2 separate regions of the Homo sapiens genome follow, and region 2 is linked to region 1. The links come from fine-mapping of genetic effects on gene expression. A gene starts in region 1. The other region holds a variant in brackets. All regions are shown on one strand. Distances are from middle to middle.

Region 1 (5,000 bases):
AAAATATTCATCCAATAGAACTTCAAGTATTTAAAGAGACAACTTTTAAAAACCTATCATTTCCTATTCTGGATACTATGTTTTCTTATACAAACCTTGGTTCAAGTGACCTGCTGCAGAATTAAAAGAGGTATGTAAAAGAAGGGAGTAGAGAGAAGAATAAAAAGCAGTAGGGTAAAGGGTGTGAAACAGAGTGTAAGAAAATAACTAGGATTTGGAATGTAATAAACACAAAGTAGAGAGTAGCAAGCCTATGCCATAGCATAGAAAAGAACTGGTATCTGAAAAGAATCAGTATTGATAAAACCTTGAAAGCAGGAAAAAGCTAGAAATAAAAACAAAATAAATCTTTAAGTTTGATCACAAACAAGCAAAATATTCAAAATTAGACATTAGGTTCCTGACAGGAAACAAAAGAAACATCACCCTATTAAGAGTGGGGCTACTAACAGTATAAGTTAAATTACACTTACTGGAAATTACTATATAATATTCAATGACATTGGGAAGTGAAAAAAATTACAAAGAGAATGCACCAAGTCTTGTAAACAGCGGTTATCTCAGAATAGTAGAATTAAAAGCAAATTATATTTTCCTTCTTTTTTTTCTGCTATAAAGTGAATGACTTGTGGTGCAATCTTACAAAGTCTCAATCTGTGTATTCTGCAATAAAGGCATTATATTATCACTATTGCATTTGTGATACATTCTACCTTACCCTTTATGTGACAATTCTATACTGTTTTAACTGTCAAATTGTAAGTAAAAGTGTGAATTCGTGACCAAAAATTTTCCACACCAGCAACTTAAGAACTACAGCAATATGTTTAGAAAACTGCGATCCCAAACAAAAAATCTATACTAGGTGAGACAGGATGACATTGACTTTAATTCCAATAGACTCACTACCACATGACGTCCATTACTAGTGCTCACTTTCCAGAACCCAAGGAGCTGTGGAAGAATGGAGTCCTTTCAATGAAAATAAACTAGAGGCAATACACAACACAGTTACTTTGAGGGGCTTTTTCAATATAAAGAAGATTGCCCGGAATCCTAACTCTCCTATTTCCCAAAAATGACAAAGCCAAAAAGTCACACTCTTCACACATCTGAAATCAAGTTTTACCTGAACTCATCCTAACATATTAGCTCTTTTACCTATTCCCCTTACTATCTAAGGCAAGAAACCTTGAAAAGAGAAGCAGTAACACATTTCACTGAAACATATTTTGTAAAGGAGGATTCTAATTCCTAATCCTTCACCGCTCTAGATGTCTGCGGATTTCAAATCCTAACCACGGCGTCCTGCCCCCCGCGAGATTCCAACAGTACTACGGGCCCTATGGGAGGAGGAGGATTTGAGAAACACTGCCGGAGAACGGTCGGTGCAAAGATTTTGCAAACAGGTAGTCCTAGGAAGGAAAGTAAGAGTGAGAACATCGGAGAGGGCAGGGAGTACATGGGTGGGGAAACCCCTTTCAAATGCATGAACTGACCACAACCGGAGAAAGGCCGTCTGTCTTCCCAAAAGTAAAATGGTGAGTAAAGTGGAGCAAGCTAAGAAAGTCAACAGCCATTAGGCATTGACAACGATTCCGAAACAATTAGCTATGTTAATTCGAGGGGGTAAACGGGGGTGGGACCCTGCCCTAAAGGGTCATTTTGAAAAGAACCCCTCCCCATTTGAGGCGGGTTGGCAGAGCAGCGCACAAATCCCAAGTCTAACGTAATAAGCCGAGATCGGGATACTCGGTCTGCAGTCGCCCCACGGACCAGATGAGCGCAGGTGTATCTGCGGAAGCTCAGGTTACCATGAATATCACTGGGCCACGGCGAACCCTCCCTGCCCAGCCTCCCGGAGCCCTGGGCGCGGGTCTGCACGGGCCCCACAGCTTGCCCGGACCCGGCGAGCGGACGCCTCCGGCCGCAGCGCCCTACCGCACCTGGCTGCCAACACCAGTTGAAAGCAGTCAAAGTGAAGGGAGGCGGACGCGGCTCCTGGCACCGCTCCGATTCCAGCACACAAAGGCGGATTTTTAAAATCGAGAAAGTCAAAGCCGCCGGACCCCGGGACCGGCGCCTTTCGCCAAGGGGCTCTTACCTCGGATCCGCCCTCGGGGCCACGGCTTTCCCCGGAGACGCCGCGAGCCCAGACGAGGTGGGAGGGGACCGGGAGAAAGCCCCCCAATCTGATTCGCGCCCAGCCAGTCGTCCGCGAGCCGCGGAGCCGCCTTCTGCACCCAGCTAAAGAGCAGCGATCTCCGAGGCGAGCACAGCGCCGGCCTCGCGCCGGGCGAGACCGCCTCGCTAGCTGCTGCCTGTGAAGTCTGGAGCCGCCCGCCCGCTCGCAGCCAGTGCCAACCGCGCGCCGCGCATGCCCAGTGCCCGCGCGAGGAACGAGCGAGCGGGCGGGCGGGCGAGTGCGCGCCCCGCAGCCAGGAGCGAAATCCGCTATCCGGGTCTTGCCGGCAGCCGAGCCGCAGAGTTCTGGTCGACTCCAGCGCTTGAGGCGAAGTGGCCGGTGAGGCCGGGTGGGCGGGAGAGGGACCGGAGGAAAGGAGACGGGGCGCTGCGCCAAGTTATCAAGGCCGCGATCAAAGTCGGACCAAGGCAGCGAGTCGACAGCAGGTTTCCAGAAGTGCCCTAACAGGACTGACTAGCAGCCAGGAGGCGCAGGAAGGGGCAAAGAGCGTGTGGAGAGCTTCGCCCCCGGCGAGGATGGACGCCCCGGGCGGAGGGAGCGCTCGGGTTGCAACACCCAGTCTGGCTGCACAGCTCGTAACCCCTGCCCTTTGGCGGCAAACAAGACGCATCTAATGACCAGCCAGCCTTCGTCTTCCTCCTCTGATCATCGGACCTATTTTCCCCCTTTTGTCGCTCTCCTCTTTTTTTGTCTCTCCAACCCATGCGGTAAACTGGTGGTGCCCAAGGCCCTCCATCGGGTCCCTGAGAGTCTCCCAACTGCCGGTCCTTAGCGCCAGCCTGCAAGCCCAGACCCGCCTCGCCAGGCTGCCTGTGAGCCTATTTTTCATGTAGCTCTTGCCAAAAGCCCTGATGTGGTTTGAAGTAGTGGAGGCTTCTTTCACTTTGTGCCTCTCGTACCTTAACCAACCCTCATAACCTCCTCTCTGAGTAGCTCATGGAGCCTCTAAAAGAGAAGTCCATGTTCTCATAGACATTGTGTTTTCTCACTCTTAAAACTCCTCATTGTCATAGCTACTCCCCCAATCCCCCCATGCTGTCCTAACTTCGAAGTCAGTTGACTTCCAGAAGTCCACGAAAGCCTATAAATTAAACTTGGTTAAAAGAGATTGGACTTGCTTGCTTTGTGAAGCAAATAAAAGCACAGTCAGGGAGAAACGACGTAACATGCCAAGGTGGACATTCAAACCATTCTAAAAGTTGGAATCGATATAACGGCTAAGTCCAGTCCCCTATTTTAAGTGGGAATACTCTCTCCAATATTTCCACCAGACCACTATCCACTTGAACATTTCCAATGTTGTAAATTTCTATTTTTATCATTACATATAACCATGATTATTTGTTGAATATTTACCTATGCCAGGAACTGAGCAACTTACACACATTATTCCTAGTCCTTAAAATGAGATGGGCCTTATTATACCTATTAAACACATTAGGAAAATGAAACCCAGAAGTTTCCTTCTTTTTGCCAAAGCCAATGCTGACGCCAGAATTAACAACCAGGTCTGCTTAACACTATAGCCTGTATCATTTATGAACATCAAATCAACTTCCCTGATACTACTGGTCTTGGTTCTGCCCCTAGGAACAACACAATATGAATCTCATTCTTTATAGACACTGCAAGCCTTGAAATAGTAGGGGCAACTATTAAGTAACCAACAGATCTAATACATTTCTTCAAAAATTCTCTTTTAAGTGTTTTTCAAATAGCAGTGAGCTGCCATAATCACACTATTCACCTTGCTTTGAATGTGTTTTGATTTTCATTCTCCTCTCTAAATTGTGCACTGAGAATACAATATTCAAATACAGTGGGCCAAGAACTGAGTTCCAGTTCTCCAGCTGCTGATCAGCCACCCCTTTGATGCAAGCACACACTACCTAGATTCAAACAGAACACCCAAGTCTATTTCACATCAACTAAATTAAACCGTATCTTCCACCTTTCATAGTCTATACTTCTATGTATTTAAATCTTGATTTTTGTTTTATTCTTATTAAATTTTATCGTGTTTGTTTTAGGACACAATTTCAGATAAATACTAGTGATCACTTTTAACATTTGTAAATTTAATAAGTATGCCTTGTTTGGCTCCATTTACGTCTAGTAAGAAACAGTAACACAGAACGGGCTTTAAAAAGGCCTGTGATATTATAAAATATATATTTGGTCTTCATCCCATTTCCAGACATATAGCTCCTAAAATCCTTGAAATCTCCAAAGTGATGAACATCTTTTTGTATTTGAATGAATTGGCTGATGGCTGGGGGCTCCAGCATAGCTTCAGGATGGGGACTGGTCATAGGAAGGACCAAGGCATGATTAGTGTGTTGGAACCTTCAGCCCCACCCTCTAACTTCCGGGGCTGGTTAAGCTGATCACCAATGGCCCATGACTTGATCAATCATGCCTACGCAATAAAGCCTCCACAAAAAAAAAAAAAAAAAGAATGGGTTACATGCACTTCCAGAGAGGGGAACATGAATAACTAAACGGAGATTCCTGGATGGCGGTGCTCCCAGAGAGGGCATAAATCACCCTATGCATCTCTTCAACTGTATCCTCTGTAATATCCTTTATAAGAAAATGGTAAACATGTTTCCCTGAGTTCTGTGAGCAGGTCTAGCAAAATAACCAAACTCAAGGAGGGAGTCACGGGAACCCTAATTTCTAGTTGTTCAGCCAGAAGCACAAGTAAAGCCACCTGGGGCTTTTTTGTTTGGCATCTGAAGTCAGGGTAGTCTTGTGGGACTGAGCCCTCAACCTGTAGGATCTGACATTATCT
Region 2 (5,529 bases), 42 kb before region 1:
ACAATACCTAATATTTGAGCACTTCCAGCTAATATTTGCTGCCTAAAGCACCATTGAGAAGGATTCTCATGACTCTTTCAAGATTCCAGGCTCTTTTTTAAGTGCTTTACATATTTAATAATTTGATTCTTACAACAAGCCCATGAAGGTAAGTTGTAATACTTTCCTATTTCAAGAGATAAGAAAATTGAAACATGTAGAATTTGAGTAACTTGCAAATTCATACAGGTACTAAGTGGTAAAGGCTGGTTTCAAACTTAAGTAATTATAACACAGTATGATAAATGCTGAAACAAAGGTTATGGGAATAGTACAAACAAGAATTTAATTAAACCAAGTAGTTATGGATAACGTTAACAAATACTTTTAAAAGTCTTTTGTGAACTAGCCTAAAAACTTAACTGTCCATTATTACTATTTTTTTATTACTATTATTTTTTTTTTGAGACAGACTCTCGCTCTGTCACCAGGCTAGAGTGCAGTGGCGCGATCTCGGCTCACCTCCCAGGTTCAAGTGATTCTCCTGCCTCAGCCTCCCAAGTAGCTGGGATTACTGGCATGTGCCACCACGCCCAGCTAATTTTTGTATTTTTAGTAGAGATGGGTTTCACCACGTTGGACAGGATGGTCTCGATCTCCTGACCTCGTGATCCACCCACCTCAGCCTCCCAAAGTGCTGGTATTATAGGCGTGAGCCACCATGCCTGGCCAATTGTCCATTATTTTTAACATTATTTGTAAAGAAAAACTCTACCTGTTTCAAAGAAATGAGTATAAAAGAACACTTTACAACCTAACTGCTTATTATAGACTAAGTTCAGTAGATTTTAGTTTCCTCACCTGAAAAACAAAAGAACTAGAGTAGATCAGGATAGCAAGTACATGACGTTTGTGCGGGCCCTCCCCGTTCCCATAAAAAACATCAATAATTTATCATTACACTCTTTAATGCCAAGCTGAACCCAAAGATGTGGGAATTCTCAACATTGCTGTAAACAGCCACTACTAAATTATAAAGTCAGCATAGAAATGGAAACCAGGTATTATCCCTGAATTAGACAGTCTCTACAGTCCCCATCTGACTCCAAAAATCTATGACTATGTATCCAAAAAAAAAAAAAAATTCTTTAAACCACAGAAAAAGAAATCACTTTTATTTTGTCAGGTGAGTGTAGCAATCATTGCTAGCAAAATATAGACCTCCCATTGTTCACTTTCAAATCCTTGGAAATACACAAAGAGAAATTAAACAAAGACACTGCCCCATCTTTAAAATTTTCATAGACTATCTAGATAATAGCTCAAGTTCTCTGCCTTTTAGTAGAAACATCAAGAGCTATTATATGTGGTTTCCCAGTACATGTAAGTTTAAAACAACAAAGGATGAATGACCAGGGCAAATACGTTGTCCAAATGAAACTAGTTAACATTATTAAACTGAATTACTATCATGACAATAAATGCGATCATGCCATAAAATCTCACAAAGCCTTATGAGGGTTGAAGAGTTACACCATTTTCTTTAACACACAGCTTTTACATGGGATTGCACATTCTATGAACACCTTTATAGGAGAAAAAGAAGCATCATACGATTATATCATCAGGCCAGTATTGGTCTTTTTGAGGTGAGTTTGCCTATACCAGTTTATTAAACAAATGTTTCAGTCAGTGATGCATCTAATAGAGAACTAATTTTTCCTTGAAGCAGGAGTCAGGGGGAGACTTCCTAGAACTCAACTGCCCTCAGTAGCACTGTGTGAAAGGATTATATTGCATGCTAACCAGCTAGTCAATCCTCTTTAGCTGCTAAATATAATTTAACACCAAGAATATCAGCCCCATATTGCTATCTGCCTAATCAAACATTTCTGCTTGATTTCTAATTTGTTCAAAATTGAACCTGATCTTTCCCACCATAAGCTTACTCTTCAAATTTTCTCACTGATTTTAATGGCACTTCCTTTCTCCTCATCACTCTAGCCATTGATGACTCCATCATCACATGTCTGGATAATCAAAATGAGCTTAACTGGTCTTCCAATTTTAAATAACTTCCCCCTTCTAATCAATCTTCTTTTTCTAAGACTATAAGAATTTATTCAAAAAGCACTGCTTTTATTTTGCTTTCCTCTCTCCCAGAACCAACA[T/C]TGGCAACACATGAGATCGTATAACAGAAGAAACATTAACTTATTAATCAAGAAGCTTGGGTTCCAGCCCCAGTTCCTCTACTCAGTAATTTGAGCAACTCAATTTGGTTTCCTTACCTGAAAAGCAAGTCCTGGATTAGAAGAGCTCTGGAATCCCTTCTATTGAAAAACAACAAATCTCTTATCCTGGAATTCATGGCCCACCATAATTTAGCTAATCAAACTCATCTACAAGCATCCCCCTAAGCATATACTCCTACTGTCCACTACTGTTTGCATGCTCCTGAATTATGTTAGTTACCATAGTGCCCTACTAACTAGTTCTTCTTATAAAATGAACTCACCCTCCTTTCTTACCAAAACTATTCTAAAACAGAGGGGTTAACAAGGGACTCCTTTCTTCTTTGCCTTTTTCTGATATTTTTAAATCCTCAACAGTCAATACATATTTTGTACGCAGGAAGTGTTCAGAGAAAATAAACAAACTTTTCAAACCAGAACTACAAAGTAAAATTATCTCAATGCATAAAGCCAACCTAGTAACCCTCAATAATATATCCTATTTTTCTTGCTAGAGATTATTTGCTGTACACATTTGGATATTAACTTTAAAACTTAACCTGTATAAACTGTGGCTCTAATGTAAAGACTCAATAGTTAATAAACTGATTTTATTTTGGTTCTTTTAAGTGCATGGTCTAATTTATTAATGGTAAGCTGAAGTGGATACTATATATAGCTAATATGGTTATCAGAAAGTGCTTAATCTTAGTACATTAACAAACTTACTCCATTTCCTAGAAACCCAATCTGTTTTTCAAACCAAAATGCACTATTTTAGGAGCAGCTGGTTAGTTCCAGTACTACCAATTCAGTAATCTTATAAGTTAAATTATTTTTGTGAACTGATAGAGAACCCCCAGTTACCATCTACAACACTGCATTAGTAAGAAAGTGGCAAATGATCAAAAAAGTAACTTGGGGGGAGCCCAAAACATATTTTCCTTTCCCTCAGCCATCATTCAGCTTACAGAAAGAAGAAATGAATGATCCAGAGATATTATCCTATTCTCCAGAATCTTCAGTGACTTGATTTCAATATAAAACAGGACAAATACTCCAATTTAAGAAAAAAAATAGCCAGGCGCAGTGGCTCACGCCTGTAATCCCAGCACTTTGGGAGGCCGAGGTGGGCGGATCACGAGGTCAGGAGATCGAGACCATCCTGGCTAACACGGTGAAACCCCGTCTCTACTAAAAATACAAAGAATTAGCCGGACGTGGTGGCAGGCACCTGTAGTCCCAGCTACTCGGGAGTCTGAGGCAGGAGAATCGCTTGAACCCGGGAGGCGGAGATTGCAGTGAGCCGAGATCACACCACTGCACTCCAGCCTTGGCAACAGAGCAAGACTCCATCTCAAAATCAAAAACAAAAACAAAACAAAAAAAAGTAATGCCTCATGCATGCAAAAAAGGCAGAGAATTTGCTATCAAAAGGTCTGTGCCAAGCCCCGCAACTTAATAACCCACAGTCAAATCTCAGAGCCTCTTATCCTCAGATTCCTTAACAGCAAAATGGGAAATAATCATAATACCAACCTTGTCTACTGCATAAGATCACTGAGAAGCAAATGATATAATAATGTAAAATGTTTTGAAAACTTCGAAATTCTTCACAAATATCAATTAAAATATTATGAAGTAATATTCTTAAGTCAAATGCTCACCAATTTTAAGTATTCATCTATTACCAAATAAATTCACCTAGTAGGAAAACTAAAGTGATGAGGATTAGAAAGGAAAGAATTATCCTCAATAATATCAATTTTCTAAGTCTGGGTTTTTACACATCTTGTTTTTTTTTAAAGTAGGACACACAAAACTCTACAGAAACAATTTCAGTGAATTAAGTGTCTGAATACCTACACCTTTTCTTAAAGATCTCCAGGGAGAGAAATTCCACAGCTCCCTTGGTATTTTTCACTCTGGATCTGAACAACTCAAATAAAGTATAAACACGTAGCTTTCATTCCTTTCATCTGATATAAAGAAAAGAAAATATGCCCAGTTAGTTTAAAATGGAATAACTCTAGATAGAAAATTCTATTCTGCAACAAGTTTTATGTCAGGTAAAGACAGAATATCCAATGTATAACAGATCTAAGCTTTTTCTCTTTTATTCACATATCCTCCTGAAAGGGCGAAAACATCCATTGCCTAGCCCCGCCTCACCAAAAAAAGCCTATCTGGTTTCCTAATTTTCATAATGGAATGCTAACTTTGACACTTGCTAATCCAGAATATAAAACGTATAGTCTTCTCTTCCTTTCATACCATAGAACATCAGCACTTTATGTACTTGTCAAATGTTAATGTTAAACTCCAGCAAAAGCAAATACTGAGACAACTGATGCTAGAGAGAACTTAAGGCCCTTTTAACTATTTTTGTCAAGATCCATCCTAGTGTTCTTTTGGAAGAGCTAAATGTAATACTGTTGAACTATATTACCTTAATTTGTCATAAAATGTATTGATTACCTGACTATTTAAGATTATGCCTTAGGCTCTCACTAAGGGCCAATATAGGAAACAAGTAATTAAAAAAAAATTTATTCTGGTTTCCAACACTGTCCAATAGGTTTTTCAATATATCTTTTAATATAATATCCTTTTATAGCACTCGCTGTCTGTGGCATTTCATTGACAATTCATGCATTATAATTTATTGAAATTCTTATTTGCTTGTCTATCACTTACCCTGCACAGTATACTCAAGAGCAGGAATGTCTTGTTCAACATTATTTCTCAAATGCTAAGCAAAGGGCCTGCACATAATAGAGCTCAATAATCATTTGCCTAATGAATAAATCATTTATTGTAATTTGTTTCCAAGATATATGTTCAGTCCAAAATAGAAAATAATCTCCTTACAAGAAAACACACGCCTTTTGTTTATCTTCTTCACTCTGGCTGCGACTATGCCTCACTCAGAGAAGGGACTCAATAAATACTTGATGATGACAATAACCATTATGATAGTGGTAGTGGTAGGAAGAAAAATTAACCTAATCAAAACAACATATATCATATTGTTCATAATATCTTCATATTGCATTGTTCATTAAAATCAAATATAAAATTAAGTGATTACATGTTGAGATTATAGATATTTTCTTCTTTATTTTCTGTTTTCTAACATTAGTTAGGGAATATTAGTTGTGCTTCCACACACCAGTAAGCCCAAAATAAATCAGTTCCTTATGTAAACAAAATCTAGTAGACTATAGTAATTCATCTAAGAAAAACGAATCTCCTTCTGTAGAATAGTTACACTTCAGAAACCTAAAAGCCCACTGCCTTTTGTTCCTTTTGTCTAAGA

What was found. PIP is the estimated chance that this variant, and not a neighbour inherited with it, causes the effect.
Region 2: its variant is the best candidate, but not a certain one, in a credible set for the expression of EPS8 in blood mononuclear cells (TOPMed, PIP 0.85).

What each region holds. Positions count from the first base shown.
Region 1 is chr12:15,787,057-15,792,056 of GRCh38, forward strand. It overlaps EPS8 (EGFR pathway substrate 8, signaling adaptor), which reads right to left and starts at 2,332. Exons shown (of 21, transcript NM_004447.6): 1 at 2,105-2,332. RefSeq lists silencers at 1,400-1,479, 1,810-1,929, 2,190-2,539.
Region 2 is chr12:15,744,451-15,749,979 of GRCh38, forward strand. All of the region lies in intron 1 of EPS8 (EGFR pathway substrate 8, signaling adaptor), which reads right to left. Among named protein-coding and RNA genes, the nearest start is that of EPS8, 42 kb to the right of the region's middle. The variant T/C (reference allele first, on the strand shown) is at 2,151.